2 linked regions of the Homo sapiens genome follow. The protein of the gene in region 1 purifies or fractionates together with the protein of each later gene. This does not show direct contact. Each region holds a gene or a part of one and is shown on either strand. Other genes may lie near its edges.

The links.
Region 2: the proteins of ERCC6L (region 1) and MIDN purify together in Homo sapiens (affinity purification with mass spectrometry; 2 studies listed by BioGRID and IntAct, with this or other methods). This does not show direct contact.

Annotation. Positions count from the first base shown.
Region 1 is NC_000023.11:72,227,166-72,237,347, forward strand, and holds part of ERCC6L (DNA excision repair protein ERCC-6-like), read right to left. Parts: intron 1-10,182. UniProt on the Homo sapiens protein: DNA helicase that acts as a tension sensor that associates with catenated DNA which is stretched under tension until it is resolved during anaphase. Functions as ATP-dependent DNA translocase. Can promote Holliday junction branch migration (in vitro).
Region 2 is NC_000019.10:1,250,810-1,260,461, reverse strand, and holds the end of MIDN (midnolin), read right to left. Parts: intron 8,901-9,652; coding exon 8,813-8,900; intron 8,624-8,812; coding exon 8,561-8,623; intron 6,509-8,560; coding exon 6,380-6,508; intron 6,296-6,379; coding exon 5,984-6,295; intron 5,561-5,983; coding exon 5,401-5,560; intron 5,041-5,400; coding exon 4,768-5,040; intron 3,468-4,767; coding exon 3,190-3,467; 3' UTR 1,319-3,189; downstream 1-1,318. UniProt on the Homo sapiens protein: Facilitates the ubiquitin-independent proteasomal degradation of stimulus-induced transcription factors such as FOSB, EGR1, NR4A1, and IRF4 to the proteasome for degradation. Promotes also the degradation of other substrates such as CBX4.

The sequences.
Region 1 (10,182 bases):
TCCCACAACCAACAAATGGGCTTCTACTGTCACCTCCAAATTAATAATGGAAATCATACCCAGGTTCAGGGTGCCTCTTTCTTTTCAATCCGACAATGGTCCTGAATTCATCTCTCAAATTACTCAACACTTGCACCAGCTCTACATATCACCTGGAAGCTATATATCCTCTATCGACCTCAATCTTCAGGAAAGGTTGGAAAAATGAATGGCATTCTAAAAACCACCCTCACCAGGTACTCACTCCAAACTCTTAAAGACTGGGTTACACTTTTGCCTTTGGCCCTTCTAAAAATTTGGGCATTCCCACATAAACCCTTAATGCTCAGCCCCTTTGAACTCATGTATGGGAAACCACTGGCCCCTTTTGTTCCACCTCAGGGTCAAACACCACCTCTACCAACTCCCCTTGTTTCCCCTCTTCTGTATATTATCCGCCATTTCATTTGGGAATATGCTGACAAATACCTGCCACAACCCATCACTGACTCCTCTAATCCCTTCCTATAGCCAGAAGACTGGGTTCTCATAAAAGATCCCAGTCCTACCCCCAATTCCCCCCTCACACCTAAATGGAAGGTGTAAAAAGTAAAGTAGAGGTTCCTCTTCAAAGACTTTCCTCCCCACCTAATTAGGAATAAATAGTAACTTCTCTTAGAAGCAAAATTTATTCAAAGACCTGTGCTAACATCCTTAAATATCGGCCAGCCGTAATAAAGAAATCAATGTACTTTATGTTCTTAGCTCCTACAATTTAGCCTAAATATTTGCCCTGGCATGCTTATACTAGTCCAAGCAAACATTAGGTCATAGCCTGTTCCTCTTCCTTATTTGAAGGTGTTTTTACCTTTCTCAGCATTCCACAAGTTACTTCCTCCTTCCTTTGTTCTCCTCTGTCTTTGCCTCTTTTAAAAAGTTCTAAGTTGCTAGCCAATCGGGACAAATACAGAATGTGAGGTCCCGTTCCAGCCAATGGAAACTGGACACAGCAGTAGGGTGGAAGCGTCAGTTTATAAATGACCCTGTCTCCTTTGTTCGGTGTACTCTCATGGCAAAACTGCTGGCGAGGGTGCTCTTTCTGCAGAAAGTAAAAATGGCCTTGCTGAGGAAATTAATTTTATGTTCAAGTGCTATTTCTTTATGGCACCAGGGAACAAACATTTCTAACAAAGGGACCTTACCAAATCATTCTTACCATACCCACAGCAGCAAAACTCCAGGGACTCCCCAACTGGTTTCATTATACTTCTCTCAAGAAAACAGACTTCCCTTTGCCACATACCCAAACAACCAAATCCAAAACCCCTTCAGCCTTCTCTTGTGTCTCCACAGGACCCACTTCCCTTTGCCTCACCCGAATCTTGGAAGAAAAGGAAGAGAAATTCACCTAAACCACTTATGTCTCTTTCTCTCCCAAACTTTCACTGCTTCCTAATCAACCTTGTTACAGTCCTTCAGCGGTACCCTTACGAAACTCCCATTATATATCCTGATCAGCTCTTTACTGTTCTATGGGACCTATGGCTTCAAGGAACTTTCCAGGACTTTACTCTTACCCAAATAACCTTTTTCGCTTTTTGCTTGTTTTTTTTTCAATACAAATACCCTAAGTACATCAACCTCACCAATACAACCACTTCTCACTGCTCTCAAGCTCGAACTATAAACCTTACACAATCCCTCTTGCTGCGAACTAACTCTTCCTTTGCTCCTGAATGCTGGATGTGCTTATCGCTGTCTTCCTCAGCCTACACAGCCCTTCCTGCATCCCTTCATGACCTTTTAGCAGGGAGCATAACCCTAATTTATACACTCCAAAAGGGAGCTTCCTTTCTTGAAAGAGCTGACACCCTGGTCGGCAATTATCCTACTTCCAGGGCCAATCAGGCTAACAAATTATTTCAAACCTATTACAACTCCCTGCAACGCCTCAAGCCTCAAGACTCTCCCATTAAAGGGCCTATAACTAAACACACCCCCCTTTTACAACAAGCTTCACTTTGCTTTTCAGCCTCTGAAGGAAATCTCCCTGTAGGATCCTTAACACCTAACCAACGCAACCGTACTATCATTATTAAACACCCCTCTGACCATCAAACTAACCGAGTTAACTACCCAGTATCACCTGAAGCAAATGGAGCATTTCCGCAACTGGCTCGTTTGACAGCCTCTCTCTCAGCCAATGCCTATGGCCTAACTTGTGCTGTGCCTGGTGCCCACCTTTTTCCATGGCTCAATATCAATGGTGCAACATCCTATTGCATTAAATGTGTAAAAAGTAACTCTTCCTATATTTCTACTATAGTAGGTGTCTCCCTGGCCTCCTCCTTGTCCATTTGGAGTAATGAACCACAGGAAAGAAAAAACACCCCATGTTTAGTTCACCTACTGTCTTTCCATATCTCTGCCTGTATACACGACAAAGGCCTGTTCTTTTTGTGTGGCACCAACACATACCTTTGTCTCCCTACCAACTGGACTGGAACCTGTACCCTAGTTTATCTATCTCCCTCCATTGGACTTGTTCCTCCTGATCGACCTTTGCCCATCCCACCCATCCAATATGTTAGAAAAGGAAGGGCCATCCATGTCATTCCCTTAATAGCCACCTTGGGTATAACCTCTGGACTTGGATTGAGAGCAAGCAGATTAGCCACTTCCATAACATACTTTAAGGCTGTTTCAACAGAACTACAGAACTCATTAGAAGACACAGCCCCAAGCCTTATAAAAGTCCAAGACCTTGGCCAGGCACGGTGGCTCACGCCTGTAATCCCAGCACTTTGGGAGGCCGAGGCAGGAGATAGAGACCATCCTGGCTAACACGGTGAAATCCCATCTCTACTAAAAATACAAAAAATTGGCTGGGCGTGGTGGTGGGCGCCTGTAGTCCCAGCTACTTGGGAGGCTGAGGCAGGAGAATGGCATGAACCCGGGAGGAGGAGCTTGCAGTGAGCCGAGATTGCGCCACTGCACTCTGCTCTGGGAGACAGAGCAAGACTCCGACTCAAAAAAAATAAAAAAAAAAATTAAGAATAAAGGATTGATCAGGCTATTTGAAGAGCAACCTCATCATATCCCACAATTCCAAACTCCTCCCCAACCAGAGACATGCTAGCCCCAAGATAACCCCCCTCTGGCCAGGAAGATGGCAGCCTTGAGATAACCCGCCTTGGCTGGAAAGATGTCTGCCCCAAGATAACCTCCTCTCCTCCCAGAGACATTCCAACCCTGCCATAAAACCTCTCCCTCACACAGAAACATTCCAAGCTTGTGATAAGCCCCCTCACCCTAAAACCAATATATACTCTTAGTCTGTAAGAGAAAGCACTCCTGACCAAAAATCGGCCAGAAGCCCCTCTCAGGTTTTATCTGAAGTAAACCTGCCTTTAACTGTTGAGCTGCATTTTGTTTCTTTCCTCTTTCTTTAACTCTTACAAGTGTTGGCAAGGATGTGGAGAAAAGGGAACGCTTGTATACTGTTGGTACTATTATAAATTAGCATGGACATTCTGGGCTGGGCATGGTGCTTCACGCCTGTAATCCCAGCACTTTGGGAGGCCTAGGGTGGGCAGATCGCTTGAGCTCAGGAGTTTAAAACCAGCCTGGGCAACATGGCAAAACCCCATCTCTACCAAAAATACAAAAAATTAGCCAGGCATGGTGGTGTGCACCTGTGATCCCAGCTACTTGGGGGGCTGAGGTGGGAGGACTGCTTGAGCTCAGGAGCCCCAAGCTTCAGTGAGCCGAGATCGTGCCACTGCACTCCAGCCTGGGTGACAGAGGGAGACCCTGTCTCTAAATAAATAAATACATACATAAGTATGGCCATTCTGGAAAACAGTGCAGAGGTTCCTCAAAAAACTAAAAATAAAGTTACCATATGATCCAGCAATCTCACTTCTGGGTACTTCCAAAGGACCTGAAATCAGTATATTGAAGAGATACCTGCACTCCCGTGTTCACTGCAGCATTATTCATAGTAGCCAAGAAAAGGAAACAACCAAAGTCACCATCAACAGGATGAATGGATTTTTAAAATGTGGTATATACACACAATGAAAAATTATTCAGCCGTTAAAAGGCAGGAAATTCTGATTTGCAACATGAATGAACCTAAAAGACATTTTGCTAGGTGAAATAAACCAGGCACGGAGAGACAAATACTCCATGATCTCGCTTATACATGGAATCTAGAAAAGAAGTAGAGAGTAGAACAGTAGTTACCAGAGGCTGGGGGGATAGGGGTAGATGGGGAAAGGAGAAATGTTAGTCAATGGTACAAAGTTTCAGTTAAACAGGAGGAATAGGTTCTAGTGATCTACTGCACATCATGGTGACTATTATTAATAATAATGAATCATATATTTCAAAATAGCTAAAAGAATGAACTTTTTTTTTTTTGAGACAGGGTCTCCCTCTGTCACCCAGCCTGGAGTGCAGTGTGCCATGATCTCAGGTTACTGCAGCCTCCGCCTCCTGGGTTCATAGGATTCTCCTGCCTCTGCCTCCCGAGTAGCTGGGACTACAGATGCGTACCACCACACACAACTAATTTTTGTATTTTTAGTAGAGACAGAGTTTCGCCATGTTGGTCAGGCTGAAGAATGGATTTTAAATTTTTTCACCACAAAGAAATGATAAGTATTTGAGGTGATGGATATGTTAATTAGCCTGATTTGATCATTTCACAATGTATACGTGCATTGAAACATCACATTGTACCCCACAAATATATACAATTATTGTTGGTCAAAAATAAAACTGGTCAAGTGCAATGGCTCATGCCTGTAATCCCAGCACATTTGGAAGCCAAGGCAGAAAGATCGTTTGAGTCCAGGAGTTCAAGATTACGGTGAACTATGATGGCGCCACTGCACTCCAGCCTAGATGACAGAGCGAGACCCTGTCTCTAAAAAAACAGAAATAAAACTGTACTCCATAAACATGTATAATTATGTGTCAATTATAAATAAACCCAAAAACTTTAAAAATAAAATAAAATAATGCCAAAGTAAAAGGTTTACTAAAAAAATGTGAAAGTTCTCAGCACAGAGATGAGATTTAAAGCCAAGAACCTGGATAAGATCACCCAAGGAAGGAGTATTAAAAAAAAAAAAAAAAAAAAAAAAAGACAGCTGGGCATGGTGGCTCATGCCTGTAATCCCAGCACTTTGGGAGGCCAAGGCAGGTGGATCACTTGGGCTCAGGAGTTCGAGACCAGCCTGGGCAACATAGCCAGACCTGCCTCAAAAAAAAAAAAAAAAAAAAAAGACATGGCATTCCAACATTAAGATCATCTATAGAATTCCAGCTAATGAATACACAAAGAACGGTGAAACTAGAAAATCACGACTTTGCAGCCAGGCTTGGTGGCTCACGCCTGTAATCCCAGCACTTGGGGAGGCCAAGGCAGGCAGATCACCTGAAGTCAAGAGTTGGAGACCAGCCTGGCTAACATGACGAAACCCCGTTTCTACTAAAAACACAAAAAATTAGCCGGGTGTGGTGGCACCCACCTGTAATCCCAGCTACTCAGGAGGCTGAGGCAGGAGAATCACTTGAACCCGGGAGGTGGAGGTTGCAGTGAGCTGAGATCGCGTCATTGTACTCCAGCTTGGGCAACAAGAGCGAAACTCCGTCTCAGAAAAGAAAATCACCACTTTGTAATCTCTAATAACTGATTTGACACTTTGGGAGGCTGAGGCAGGTGGATCGCTTGAGACTAGGAGTTCAAGACCAGCCTGGGCAACATAGGGAGACCCCATCTCTTTAAAAAAAAAAACTGATTTGAGCAATAATTATCAATGGTTGAAAGCCTGATGGGTTGGTGGGGAACTGGATATTCACAGAATACTAAGCTATCCTGAACGTATTACTTCCTCATCATAAGGGGGAAATGCAACTTTGCAAAGGAGGAATCAGATTGTAATCACTGAACCCATTGATCAACCTTTCAATAGCATTATTGAAAGTAGGAAAGTCAGATGTTATATACTTCCTGATATGACACAATATAGCTACACAGCCTTCCCTATAAAGTATTCATGCCAAAAATATTGAAGCTTAATCTTATCAAGCCTTTAGTTTAAATTATAGGAGACAGAACAAACTAATGACACTACAAGGAAGACATCACACTAATTCAAATCATTGTCATAGAAATAAAAGTGGAGGGGAGGGGAGAACTGTTCTAGATTAGAAGTTCAAGAAACATAAAACCCAAATGAAGTTGTAGACCTTCTTTGGATCCTGATAAACCATTCAAAAATTTGAGGCTGGGCATGGTAGCTCACGCCTGTAATCACAGCACTTTGGGAGGCCGAGGCAGGCGAATCACTGGTCAGGAGTTCAGGACCAGCCTGGCCAACATGGTGAAACCCTGTCTCTACTAAAAATACAAAAAATTAGCTGGGCATGGTGGTGGGTGCCTGTAATCCCAGCTACTCGGGAGGCTGAGGCAGGAGAATCACTTGAACCCAGGAGGCGAAGTTTACAGTGAGCCGAGATTGCGCCACCACACTCCAGCCCGGATGACACTGCAAGACTCCGTCTCAAAAAAAAAAAATTTGAATATGGACTATGTATTAGATAATATCAATGAATTCATTTATTTTGTTAGGTGTGATATGGCATGGTGGTTTTGTAAGAATATGGTTTTTTTTTTGACCGGGCAAGGGGGCTCATGCCTGTAATCCCAGCACTTTGGGAGGCTGAGGCAGGTGAATCACCTGAGGCCAGGAGTTTGAGGCCAGCCTGGCCAACATGGTGAAACCCCATACTAAAAATACAATAATTAGCCTGGCGTGGTAGCAGGTGCCTGTAATCCCAGCTACTTGGGAGGCTGAGGCAGAGAATCACTTGAACCTGGGAGGCAGAGGTTGCAGTGAGCTGAGATTGCGCCACTGCACTCCAGCCTGGGCAACAGAGCAAGACTCCGTCTCAAAAAAAAAAAAGAATATGTTCTTTTTAAGGAATATATACTTAAGTATTTCAGCGTGAAATGTCATATCTGGGGATTTAAATTATCTTAGAAGATATGAGGAGGAATATCAACAGAATCTGAAGCAGCAGTCAGTGAAGTAAGAAGAAAATCCGGAGAGCAAGGGCTCCTTGGAAGACTAATGAATCATGTGTTTCATGGAGAAGTGATTAACTTCGTCAAGTACTACTGGTCGAGGTAGATGAAGATTGAGAATTGACTGTTGGATTTAGTTATATGAATGTCATTGGTGACTTTGATAAAAGCAGTTTGTGTAAAGTGATGGGGTGAAAACCTGATTGGGACGAGTTCAACAGAAGTTAGGAGAAAAGAAATAGGAAATGACAAGTGTAGACAATGATATGACACCTGGAATTTTGCTGTAAAGGAAAGAGAAGAAATGGAGCAATAACTGGAAATGAAAATAGGATCAAGAGAGGATTTTTTTTTTTAACAATGAAAGAATTGGTGGGCTGAAGTCCTTATACCAGTGAGTGACAAGGGATGAGATCTTTTGCACAAATGGAGGGGTTGTGCCTTAGCTAGAAGCATGGAGAGTTCATCCATACTAACAGGACAGAAGGCAAAGAACACAGAGGGAATAATGCTGGGAAGTAGGTTGATATGGAAGAAGCTTCTGGAAACTGTCTTCTGATTGCTTCTATCAACCCAGTGAAATTGGAAGCAAGAGAGATGAGGGTGAGATGTTGAGGGTCTGAAAAGCAAGAAGGCATGAAACAGGCATCTAGTACAATGGATGAGTGAATACATTAGAGAAATGTACTATGATTGCCAGGCAGCATGAAGGGCCTGCTTGACATCGATATTGATGGATTTCAAGTAAGACCAGTCACATGATTGTTTCTTCAACCATGTTCATCTGAGAGGGCCAGAGTTGGATTTAGCAAAATGTATTAGTTTCCTATTGCTGCCGTTACAAATCATCACAAATGTTAAAACAACACAAAGTATTATCTTTTATCTTACAGGTTATATCTTGCAGGTTATATAGGTTAGAAGTCTGACACAGGTCTCACTGGGCTAAAATTAAGGTTGCAGCAAGGCTGTGTTCCTTTCTGGAGGCTCTAGGGGGAGAATGTGCTTCTTGCTTTTCCAGCTTCCAGAGGCCATACACATTCCTTGGTTCATAGCCCCTTCCCCCATCTACCGAGCCAGGTAGGATAGGTTGAATCCTTCTCACACTGAGTCACTATGACCTCCTCTTCTGCCTCCCTCTTCCACTTTTTTTTTTTTTTTTTTTTTTGGAGATGGAGTTTCACTTTTGTAGCCTAGGCTGGAGTGCAACGGTGCGATCTCAGCTCACTGCAACCTCCACCTCCTGGGTTCAAGCAATTCTCCTGCCTCAGCCTCCTGGGTAGCTGGGATTACAGGCGTGTACCACCACGTCCAGCTTATTTTTCTATTTTTGTAGAAACGGTTTCATCACGTTGGCCAGGCTGGTCTCGAACTCCTGACCTCAGGTGATCCACCCACCTTGGCCTCCCCAAGTGCTGGGATTACAGGCGTGAGCCACCACACCCAGCCCCTCTTCCACTTTTAAGCACCCTGTGATTACACTGGGCTCACCCAGATATTCCAATTTCCCTATTTTAGGGTCAGCTGGTTAGTGACCTTAATTCCTCTCTACCATATGAGGGTAACATATTCACAGGGTTCAGAAATTAGTATGTGGATATCCTCGGGAGGCCATTACTCTGCTTACCATACGAAGGCTATGGTCTTGCCAAGCCAGTATAATTAAGTGTGAAAGAGAAAAAAAATAAGTTAAAGTTGTATACAAGGAAGCCTCCACAATTATTGACTCTGAACTTCAAACTATGTAAGGAGAGAAGTGAGAACCTGAGGGGTGTGCAACAGTGAAAAGATGGAATCAATGAACTATAGGTCCCAACAATATCAAACATTTGTTGGAATTGGTATTCTAGAGGGAGTAAGGTAGAAGATGGAGAGTAGAATGCTTGAACGGTGGTGTAATAATGTAAGTGTAATAAAAAGTCTGATTCTGCTGGGCATGGTGGCTCACACCTGTAATCCCAGTGCTTTGGCAGCCTGAGTTGGGAGGATCACTTGAGTCTAGGAGTTCAAGACCAGCCTGGGCAACACAGTGAGACTTCATCTCTACAAAAATCTTTTTTTTCTTTTTTTTCTGAGACGGAGTCTTGCTCTGTTGCCCAGGCTGGAGTGCAGTGGCGCCATCTCAGCTCGCTGCAACCTCCGCCTCCTGGGTTGAAGCAATTCTGCCTCAGCCTCCCAAGTAGCTGGGATTACAGGTGCCCGCCACCATATCTGACTAATTTTTGTATTTTTAGTAGAGACGGGGCTTCACCATGTTGTCCAGACTGGTCTTGAACTCCTGACCTCGTGATGCACCTGCCTCGCCCTCCCAAAGTGCTGGGATTACAGGCATGAGCCACTGCACCCAGCCTACAAAAATCTTTTAAAAATTAGCCGGGCTTCATGGCACACACCTCTGGTATATGTTTATATGTACAGTAAGTCCTCAGTTAACGTGGTCAGTAGGTTCTTGGCAACTGCAACTTTAAGCAAAATGACACACAGCAGGCCCTTGAATGACACTGGTTCATTCAATATCATTTTGCTGCAACACTGATGAGAAAAAAATTGGTTTTGCTACGTCATTTCACTTAAAGTCAGTTTCCAAGAACCTATGGACAATGTTAAGTGAGGACTTACTGTATACACACGCACACACATCTTTGCTCACTCATGTAAGTGTATCTGTAGAAGAAAATACTACAAGTCTTAGCTTCAAAAGTAAAACTATGTATCTTAACTTTTGAATTGACTCATATAGCTCATCACACACCAGCCTGAGAGAATATAAATAAATGCTTACTCACACTATTGACTTTATTAAAATCTGGCATGGTTTTCTTGAATGGCAATTTTAAATACACATTCCCTAAGACCCAGCAATCGGAATTCCAAAGTGTACACTCAGTTACGAAGTGCACAAAAATTCACACAAAGGCTGCCTATTACAACAAAAGTATAATGGCAAACAATTGGAAAAATCTAAATGAAAGGCCTGGCATGGTGGCCCACGTCTGTAATCTCAACACTTTGGGAGGCCGAGGCAGGAGGATTGCTTGAACTCAGGAGTTTGAGACCAGCCTGGGCAACATGGCGAGACCCTGTCTCTACTAAAAACACAAAAA
Region 2 (9,652 bases), on another chromosome or scaffold:
GACAACATCCTCCTTCCTCCTTCCCACCCCGCCCAGCGAGGGGGCGGTGGCGCCCTGGGGCCCTCGCCTTGACCCCAGGCCTGGCGTCGGTGACCCGCACCCCCACCCTGAGCCCCGAGGGGACATCCGCACCAGGGACGGGGCGGGGGGTGGGTGCCGCCTGACTGGGCATCCGCCTTCCTGCCGTGGGCGTGCGATGATTTGGGGTTGACTGGGCGTTGGGAGGGGCAGAGGGGTCTCAGGAAGGTGCTCCCAGGCCACTCTCTGAACCTGTGCCCCTTCCCCTGGGGGCTCCCGGTACTGGGGCCCCTAGAGATGGGATAAGGGGTGGAGGTCACATCATTGAACAAACACCCCAAATCCTCTGGGCCAAGTGATGTTCCTCTTTGGGCCTCTGTTCTCCCATCTATAAAATGGGAGCCCAATTACTTCTCATAGGCAACTCTTGTTACCTGAGGAAATACAGGTTACAAAATTTAAAAAAAGACATGAAATAGTGTTATTGCCTCATCTCTGCCCAGCCCGGACATGGGTGGAGGTGGGACCCCAGAGAGGACTCAGTCCTGGTGAGGCTCACGGGGAGCTCCAGGCTAGGGACAGAGAGAGGGAAGGGTGGGGTCTGCGGGACGGGGTGGACAGGGGTGGAAGGCGCAGGCTGGGGAAGTTCCCAGACAGCAAGGGACAGCCGGACCAGGGGTGTTCCTAGACAGGGGGCAAAGGCCGGGAGGTTTGGAGCTGAAGGCCAGGTCTGGGAAGGGCTGGAATGTCAGGAGGTGTGGCCAGAGAGGCCCCCCAGGGCTGGGTCAAGCCAGGCCTGTATCACCTGCCAGCCCAAGGTACCCTGCGGAGTCCTAGGTCCTCCCAGTCGGCCTGGTGATCTCCCTGCAGCAAGCCACACAGATGTGAGACTCCAGGAAGGGGAGCAGGTGGGTGTGGCAGAGTGGGAGTCCCCGACTCCTGTGGCTGGGGAGAGCTGGTGGTCGCGTCTCCCCCATACTGGCAGGTCCTGAGGGGGCCAGGGTCCTGCCCAGGCCACGAAGCAGGCAGGCAGGCCCTCGCCCCACACCCTAAGGGACTTCCGGCCTTGGGTACCAGGAAGTGGCTGGGCTCCTCCCTCCCACCCTGGCTGCTTCCTGCCCACCCGGCAGCCGGGGAAGGAGCGTGGGAAATTCTCAGGGCCCTGACCCCTGCCCCACCCCCTCTTCGGGGCCTTGGGACCCAGGTCAGTCCCTCTGACTCCCTGAGCTGACATCCCACCCCAGGAACCCTCCCAACCAAGGCCAGATCCCCCCACTAGGCGAGCAGGCGGGAGTCAATGTGTGTTTCATTTTCTGTTTATTACTTGAAATCACGGTGCTCGTGTAGGTTTTTTTTTTTTTTTCAATTTTATGTTTTCATACATGAAACTCACGCCAGGTGCCGGGACCCCCACAGCCCGACCCCCCGAGGGCGGGTAATGCTTTCTTGGGCAGCCCTTACCGGGCAGAGGGTGGCGAGCCGGTTCCTGCCTGGAGGTTCCACCCTCAACCAGTGGAGGCACAGACGTTATTTAAAAATCGTTAAAAAACAAAACAGAACACACATTTAAATAGGTATCCAAGACAGTTCTTCAAAAAACAAACCCGCCCCTTTTACTCCTTTTTTTTCTATTTTTTTTTCTTTTTTTTTTGGAAAAATGAAAACAAAACAAAACCCAAAATCCTTGAGCTCTACCCTCTGGGACCCCTCCCTGCCCACCCTCCCACAAAAAAATTTACAGCGCTACAGTTATAACACGTGATGTTCACATCTGAAACCATTAACTTTCAACACATAAAGGGGGGGAGTTGAGGACCTGGGGTTCACCTACGAGAACAACGGTGGGGGACAGGCAGAGCCAGGACAAGACCGACAGGTGGGGTGAGGAAGGGTCCAGACATCTCCATTATCATTAAAAAATAAAAAGTGAGTGGGGAAAAAAATCCAAAAACTACCCCATTGAAATGGCCCCAGTAGGGGATTTGTCCCTCCCCTCTGGAGACAGACACCCCTAGGGCAGGGGCACTGAGAGGCAGGGGGTCCAAATTAGACCAGCAGCGGACCCCGCCACGGGGGTTAATGCTACACGGAGTTGTCGCCCCCTGCCCAGGGGATTCACAGCTCAGCACCCCCTCCCATCCTCGCTGCAGGAGGGGCCCCCAGACAGTCCCAAATCCACATCCCTCAGGTTGGGCCGGGAAGGAGGGCTCGGAGGGGGGAACTCCCCAGCACCCAGCCATTCTCTCCCCTTTTTCAAGAGTTCCCCAACCACTATTGGCTCAGTCAGAAAATTAATAGTCTATAAATACCCCAAACTCAGGCAGGAGGTCAGAAAACACGGGAGTGGGGGCGGAGGAAACAGCACAGTCCGCCGGCTGGGGCGGGGCGGAGGGCAGGCTGGGGGGGTAGTTCCCCTCTCCCTTCCCGACAGGAAAGGGTGCCATGCCCCTGCACCCAAACCCCATGGGGACCTCAGCCCCAGCCTCTGCTAAAACAGCTTTGCTCTCCTTGTTAAAGAAATGAAGGAAAATGCAAAAAAAAGATCAAGAAAAGAGGATAGGAGTGGAAGAGAAACAGTCCCCTCGTTGGCTTCTGTGACCTGTTGGCTTGCTGTAGCCCAGTGGGCGCTGCTGGCCTGGGGTGGAGACCCCGAAGTCTGCACTGGGGGGTGGGGTGGGTTCTGCGCACTGCGGCCCCTCCCCTCATCTGTAAAGTGCATAATGACATATCGACATTTTTGACTTAAAACCTGAATAGGGTCGGGGGGGAAAGGAGGCGGCGGAAGGGATGGGGCGCGTTTCTCCGTCTCCTTCACTCTCCGCCATCCAGAGAGACTGCTACATATTGGAGCTGGGGAAGGTTGGCAGGGAGGACCGACCTGGCGCAGAGGTGAAAGGAGACAGACGGAGGAGGAGGAGGAGGAGGAAGAGGAGGGCAGGAGTGAAGGGTGAAGGAGGTAGGAAGCAAAGCCCATGAAGAGTCCAGGAAACCACGGTCAGAACTTTTTAAAAAAAGAAAAAAATAATAAAAAAGAAGAAAAGAAAAAAAGACTTCTGGCTGGGGGAGTGGCCGCCTGCCCTCCAGGGCTGGGCCACGTTCTCTCCGGGGCTCTCGGAGTCCCCGCCGCCCTGGGCTGGGGTGCGAGGGGCGAGGGTGGCCGATCCGAAGATCCTAAGCCACCACGAACTCTGACTTGATGTCAGGGTTGACTTCTGGCTTCCACACGGAGTCCTCGAAGTCGAGGCCCAAGCCGGAGGCCTCGCTGGGGCTGCCGCCGCCCCCGCTGCTACTGCTGTCGCTGCGGCCGGCCTTGCGGCTGGGTGACCAGTGGTACGGACCCCGCGCGTCCCGCCGGGCCTTTCTACGGAGCCGTTTCTGCTGCAGAAGCAGCTGCAGCCGTTCCACCTTGCAGCGCGTGGCGCGGTTTTCTGTCTGCCGAAGCCGGTCCCCTGCAAAGGAGGTAGTGGCCTGTGACTCCCAAAGCCTCCACCTGCTGAACACAGAGGACCACCCCAGACCCCAGCAAATGCCCCTGAGGTCAGACACAGTCCTGCCCTCCCTGGAGGGAGGTCAGCAAAGGAAACAGTCAAGGACATCCACCATGCCGGGCACAGTGGTTCACGCCTGTAATCTCAGCACTTTGGGAGGCCGAGGCAGGAGAATCGCTTGAGCTCAGGAGTTCGAGACAGGCCTGGGCAACCTCAGGAGTTCGAGACAGGCCTGAGCCACAGAGCGAGACCCCTCCTCTACAAAAATTACAAAATTAGCTGGGCATGGTGGTGTTTGCCTGGAGTCCCAGCTACGCAGCTGGCTTCTAATTCTCCAGCTCAGCCATGAGCTGGGGAGGTCAGGACTGTCCTGCCTCATTCTTCCTGGAGTCCTACATGGAGGGGGCTTGGCCGCTTCTGTGATCCGAGGGGAGATACTTGGGGGTTGTACCTTGGTTTTTTTTTTTTTTTTTTGAGACGGAGTCTCGCTCTGTCGCCCAGGCTGGAGTGCAGTGGCGCGATCTCGGCTCACTGCAAGCTCCGCCTCTGGGTTCACGCCATTCTCCTGTCTCAGCCTCCCGAGTAGCTGGGACTACAGGCGCCCACCACCACGCCTGGCTAATTTTTTGTATTTTTAGTGGAAACGGAGTTTCACCATGTTAGCCAAGATGGTCTCGATCTCCTGACCTCGTGATCCGCCCGCGTCGGCCTCCCAAAGTGCTGGGATTACAGGCGTGAGCCACCGCGCCCGGCCAGTTTCCCACTTTTAAACTGAGCTGGGAGGAGCCCCCGCGACGGGTGCAGAGCCCAAGGGCAGTACAGTAGCCATCTTCTGGTGAGACTCTGGAGGGAGTAACCCGCCGTTTGGGAGTAGCTGGGGCCAGGCTGGCAGGGGGGTTGTGTTCGCTGCTTTTCCAAGTCACTGAAATGCTTAGGGGTGGGCTCTGGCCCCGCCTCGGCCTGCCAGGCCTGACTTGGCCATTCACAGAGGCACCAAATGCCATCTGGAGATGATGCCCCGGGTGGGGGTGGGGCAGGAGGAAGTGGGCCTGTGGCCCCCCGGGAGCACACAAGGACACTTTGTGCCCTGACACACATGCTGCCTTCTCTCCGGGCTGGAGCAGAGCAGTGGCCACGGCAGCTGCCATCCCCCCCAGCCCCTGGGCAGGTCAGCTGCTCCTGAGCCCACCAGCTCACACAGAGGGGCCTTGAGAAGCCCAGGCGGGCGGGGAAGGTAGGACCCCCGAGGGTGGCCACTCACCCGGGGGCTTGCACATGCGGATCTGGCTCTGGCCCTGCAGCAGGGAGGCTGAGGGGGCAGCCGTGAGCTTCTCGCAGGAGGTAGTTCTGGGGGCCAGGTCGGGGGCCGGTGAGGCCGGGGAGCACTGGGCGTGGCAGCGGAGCTGGGCCAGCGAAGGGGGCATGCCCTGGTAGTGCCGGGTGGCGCTCAGGAGGTCGTTCAGGATCTGCAGGATGGTGCCGATGTCACGCCGCGGCCGCCCGCTGCTGTCTTGGCAGTTGGGGTGTAGCGTGCCTGCGGGCAGAGGTGGCCGTGAGTGCCCGGCACGGGCACAGTCCCGCATGTCCAGGACGGGCGTCCACGGGTGTGAGCTCATGAGCTCAGGCAATGGCGTGGACATGTGGGCTGATGTGCACGAGGGACCACGGGGCGGGAGCGGGACACGTCCCCAGTATGCAGGCGCCTGGTGACCCGCGGCCCCCCGGGCAGGGCCAGGCGTGTGTGTGGGGGATTCCTGGGGGACATGTGAAGTGAGCAGACGGACACAGCCTGTGTATGCCCAGAATATGTGGAGTCGCCTGTGGGTGGATGTAGACCCCAAATGCACAGGGTCACGGGACACACGTGAGCTCACACATGTGCTGTGACACCTACCAGAGAAGGTCCCTGAGAAGACCCCCGGGGCGTGATTCACAAAGCTCTCGATGACGGCGCCGGGTTTTCGGGAGCGGGGGGCAGGGCTGGCCCCTGGGGTAGACGTGGTGCTGGCACCAGGACTGGCACTGCTGCTGGCCGTGGGGGAGCAGTCCATCTGCTGATGGGAGGAAGGGGCACATGAGCACGGGGTCCAGGATCAGGGGATCACCAGCAACCCAGGGACCAGAGATCACCCACCAGCCCAGGTCAGGAGATGACCTGTCAACACAGGGTTTAGAGATAAACTAGCCCAAGGTCACGAGGTCACAACCAACCCAGGACACAGAGATGACCCATGAGTCAAAGATCAAGAGATCATCTACTGGTCCAGGTCATGTCAGGCGATGACCGTCAACTCAGGATCTAGAAATACCCCACCAATCTAGGCTGGGGGATCACCCACCAGCCCGAGGTCACAGGATAGCCCTTAATACAAGGGACTCACCTGGGACTAAGAGTCCTTGTCCTCCCCAAGACCTCCCCAGGACGGCCCACCCTTTGGATTCCAACCAAGGGTCACCCTTCCCTTCCCCAGGCTCACCTCCGGGCAGGTGGTGGAGGCTGCGTGGGACCGGAAGGAGCCGGCTGTGATGGGCGAGGGAGATGCAGGGGACGGGCTGGTGGGCACCGGGGGGACTCGGGCGGCACTGGACACCGGCCGGCAGGGCGAGGACACGGGGGAGGCTATGCTGGGGTCCCCCCGCGCAGCAGCGGCGGCGGCCGCAGCGGCCAGCACATGGCGGTGTTGCAGTGGAGCGTGCTGGGCCGCGAGCTGCAGCTGCACGAACATCATGTGGTCGCCCACACGCAAGGCCAGTGTCAGTGGCGAACGGCCCGACAGGAAGTCACTGACCTGCAAGGAGAGCGGTCCGTCAGCTGGGAGCCCCAGCTTGCGGCGCCCCCAGCCCAGCCCGGCCCAGTCCCCCCGCGCTGTGACCTGGGGCCTCTCGCCGCCCCTCTCTGGGCTCTGGGGTCCCTGTCGGTGCCACGGACGCTTAAATAAAATGAATCTGTATTTCCGGAAGCCTCCTCCGCCAGCCCGGCCCGGCCCGGGCGCCGCTGGGGGCTGTGGGGACAGAGGCGGGTCAGACGGGGGCCTGCCCCTCCCTGGCCAACTAGGTCGGTCTTGCAAGGGGAAACTGAGGCCAGAGGGGGCGGGGCCCAGCTGGCAGTCACTGACCTCAAACAACCTTCACTTTGCCTTTCCCCCACCCTCATGGGCCCCTAGATCCTCTCTGCCTGTGGATACGGGAGGGGCTCCACCTCAGGCCCCCTCCCAGCTAAGTCACCAGGGCCAGCAAGTGGGTGGAATTCCTGCACGAATTCTTCTGTCCTAACCTTTGCTTTCTCAAGATAAATATTTATCTGTCCTGGGCGGGGCGGAGGCCTAGGGGGCTGTGGCAAGGCTGCAGGAAGGGGCCCTGACCGCCCTGGGGCTGGAGTCCCGGAGGGCACAACCTGCTCCAAGCACAGAAACCCTCAATCTGCCCCCGTTCAGGGTGGGTGTGGGTTGAATCTCACCCTGTCCTCGCCAAGCCCCCTGCTCTGGGTATGGGCCAGAGCCCTGCTCTCCCCAGTGGCCGGGATGGGGGGGGGGGTGGCGGAGGTTTCTGAGAAGTGACATAGGCTGGGATGACTCAGAACCGACCGCCTCCCAGCTCTCCCTCCCGGCTCTCCTCTCCACTGGCAGTAGCTGGCGTAACCTTCTCTGCTTGGGGCCCATGGGGAGGGAGGCAGGGAGGAGGGCAGGGTGAAGCCCCCACCCTGCGGCCCAGCCTGCCCGGCCCCCTACCCCCCTGCCCCAAGACAGCCTTTGCAGGAAGGGCCCGGGGTGGCTTCCCGAGAGCAGCTGGAGTCCCCACCACCACCCGCCCTGCAACTTCCTCCCTGGGGAAGGCTAATGGGCGGGCATGACTCGGTGCCAGGCAGGGAAGCAACCCTGGGGAGCCCAGTGTCTCCGCCCAGCACCCCCTCCAGCCCCCCCCAACCCAGCTCCTTCCTGACGCAGGCGCCCAGGGAGGAGGGTGTGAAGCCAACACGCCCTGGGCCCCCTGCCAACCGCAGCCCCCCAGCGGCGGGGAGCTCTGCTCACACTCGCCCCAGGAAATCACCTGCAGCCCCCGCCCTGGCTCGGGACCCCGGCTCTGCCCCCACGCCACTGCTGCTGCTGCTGTGGCCACCCCCATGGCAGACCACCCAGCTCCCGGCCCCCGCCCTGCCCCCGCGATGTAGGGAAAGGGCAGGACTCTACATGCCGCTGGGAAAGCGGAAGGGGGTGCGGGCCTCGGGGCCAGGGAGGCCCGGGAAGCCGGCCACCCCTTGCTGGGGCGGGTGGCAGCCTGCGTCCCCCACCCTGGCAGCGGGCGGATTGCTGAGGCCTGTGTCACCCTCCTGGGAGGTGGCCAGGGCCCTTGTCTGAGGAAGGCTTGGCCGCAGCCAAGAAAATGAGGAAAGAAGGAGAAAAAAAAAAAAAAGTCCGCAGCAAAACCGGGAACCGGGTGAGGGCCAGCCCCAGCCTCCCTCCTGGCCGCTTACTAAATATTTTCCTAACATCCTGTCTAGGCCTCACTGGCCCCAGGGCTGGGCACCCCCGCCCCCTCCCCTTTCGGGGTAGAGAACAAAGGCCAGAGAGAGGAGGGGAGGGTGACGAGATCCCCACCCTCTCACGATGGGGGTCACGGAAGGCGGAAGGAGTGTCACCCAAGCCGCCACCCCCAGCCCTCAGCAGAAATGTAAAAAAGGAGAAACTCGCTCTGGGGAAGCCACAGCGGCTGGAGGGGGGCTCCTCGGTGGGGGCGGAGGGGGCTGGGGATGCAGGCCAGGGTGTGAGCGGGGATGAGGCCCCATAGGCCAAGGTCATCCTGCAGGCAGTCTTGTGAAAGCCAGGCCCCCTTCCCCCAGGGCAGCCACCGTGGGAGAGAAAGCCCTCCGGGTCAGGTGGTGAATCTTGGGGGAGAGGAGGTGGGGAGGCCAGGCCAGGCTGGCACCCAGGCGGGGTGGCGCGTCCCCTCCCCTCCCCCAGCCTCCTGGGAGCACAGACAACCCCCAGGCCCCGTCGGTGGCCAAGGCACCCTGCTCCCAGGGCTGCCCTGTTAGGAAGGGGCTGGCGAGGTCTTACCTGCGTCTCCGTGAGACTCTCGAGAGCTTGCATCACGGACTGTTCCGGCCTTGAGGCCTGAGACTACAAAGAGAGGGAGGAGAGGGGCCTGAGTGTGGGGTCGGAATCCTGGGCTGGAATAGGGGGTGGAGAGGGCCCTGCTGGCTGGCGGGGTGGGGGCCCCAGGTAGTGTGTGTGCGGACAGGTACCGAGGGAGGGGCTACTGCCTGTGTGCGGGGGCCTCTGGGGGCACGCAGCCCCATGGCCATTTACCATGAGGCCCGCTTCCACGGTGGGTACCAAGGTCAGCTTGCTGCCATCACCCACGCCGAACTCCTGCAGCTTCCCCGAACTGAGCCGGCTGGGGGGAGGAAGGAAGAGCATGAGACTCCGCGGAGACGACACAGGGACGCGGAAGCAGAGGCCGCGGGGGAGGGCTGTGCTTGTGTGGGGAGAGACGGATAAGTTCCCACCCCCACCCCTTCCCGGCTTCCAGATCCAGGGCCCTAAGCGCGTGCAGAGAGGTCTCCGTCTGGTGCTGGGAGCCCCATCCTGGCGATTCGGACCCCTTCCCTCCAGTGGAACCCCCGCCCTGGACTCTGGCACCCCCTCTGCACCCCAACCAGGCACTTTCTCCTCCTCTGGGCCCCAGTGTGCTCTATGCCACCTTCCCCCACGACCCCAGGGCAGCCCCTGCCCCCAATTCCCTAATTCTAGTCCTGGCTCCTCTTTGTAGGAACCACGGGTTTCGGCCCGAGGAGAGGCCCTGGGGGTTGCGCCGGGCCGGGCTCCCCCTCCTCCTCCCTCCCCGGCGCAGGCGGCCGCCGCCGCGCAGACAAAGGAGACCCTCCCCCTCCGCCCCTCCCCCGATGGGCCCCTCCACTGGGATGGACACTGCGTGTCCCCGGAGGCCCGCGGGGGGAGGGCTCCGGGCCTGCAGGCGATTTAAATACCAGGGGGGAGGGGAGGCTGCGGGGAGCGCTCGGAGGCGAGAACAAAGGGGGGGAGAGAGACGCAAGTGGGGGGAGACAGCCAGACGCAGAGGAGGCCGCCGAGCAGATGCGGAAGCCGGCGCGGACGCAGGCGGGAGGGGGCGGTGGCGGCCCCCACACC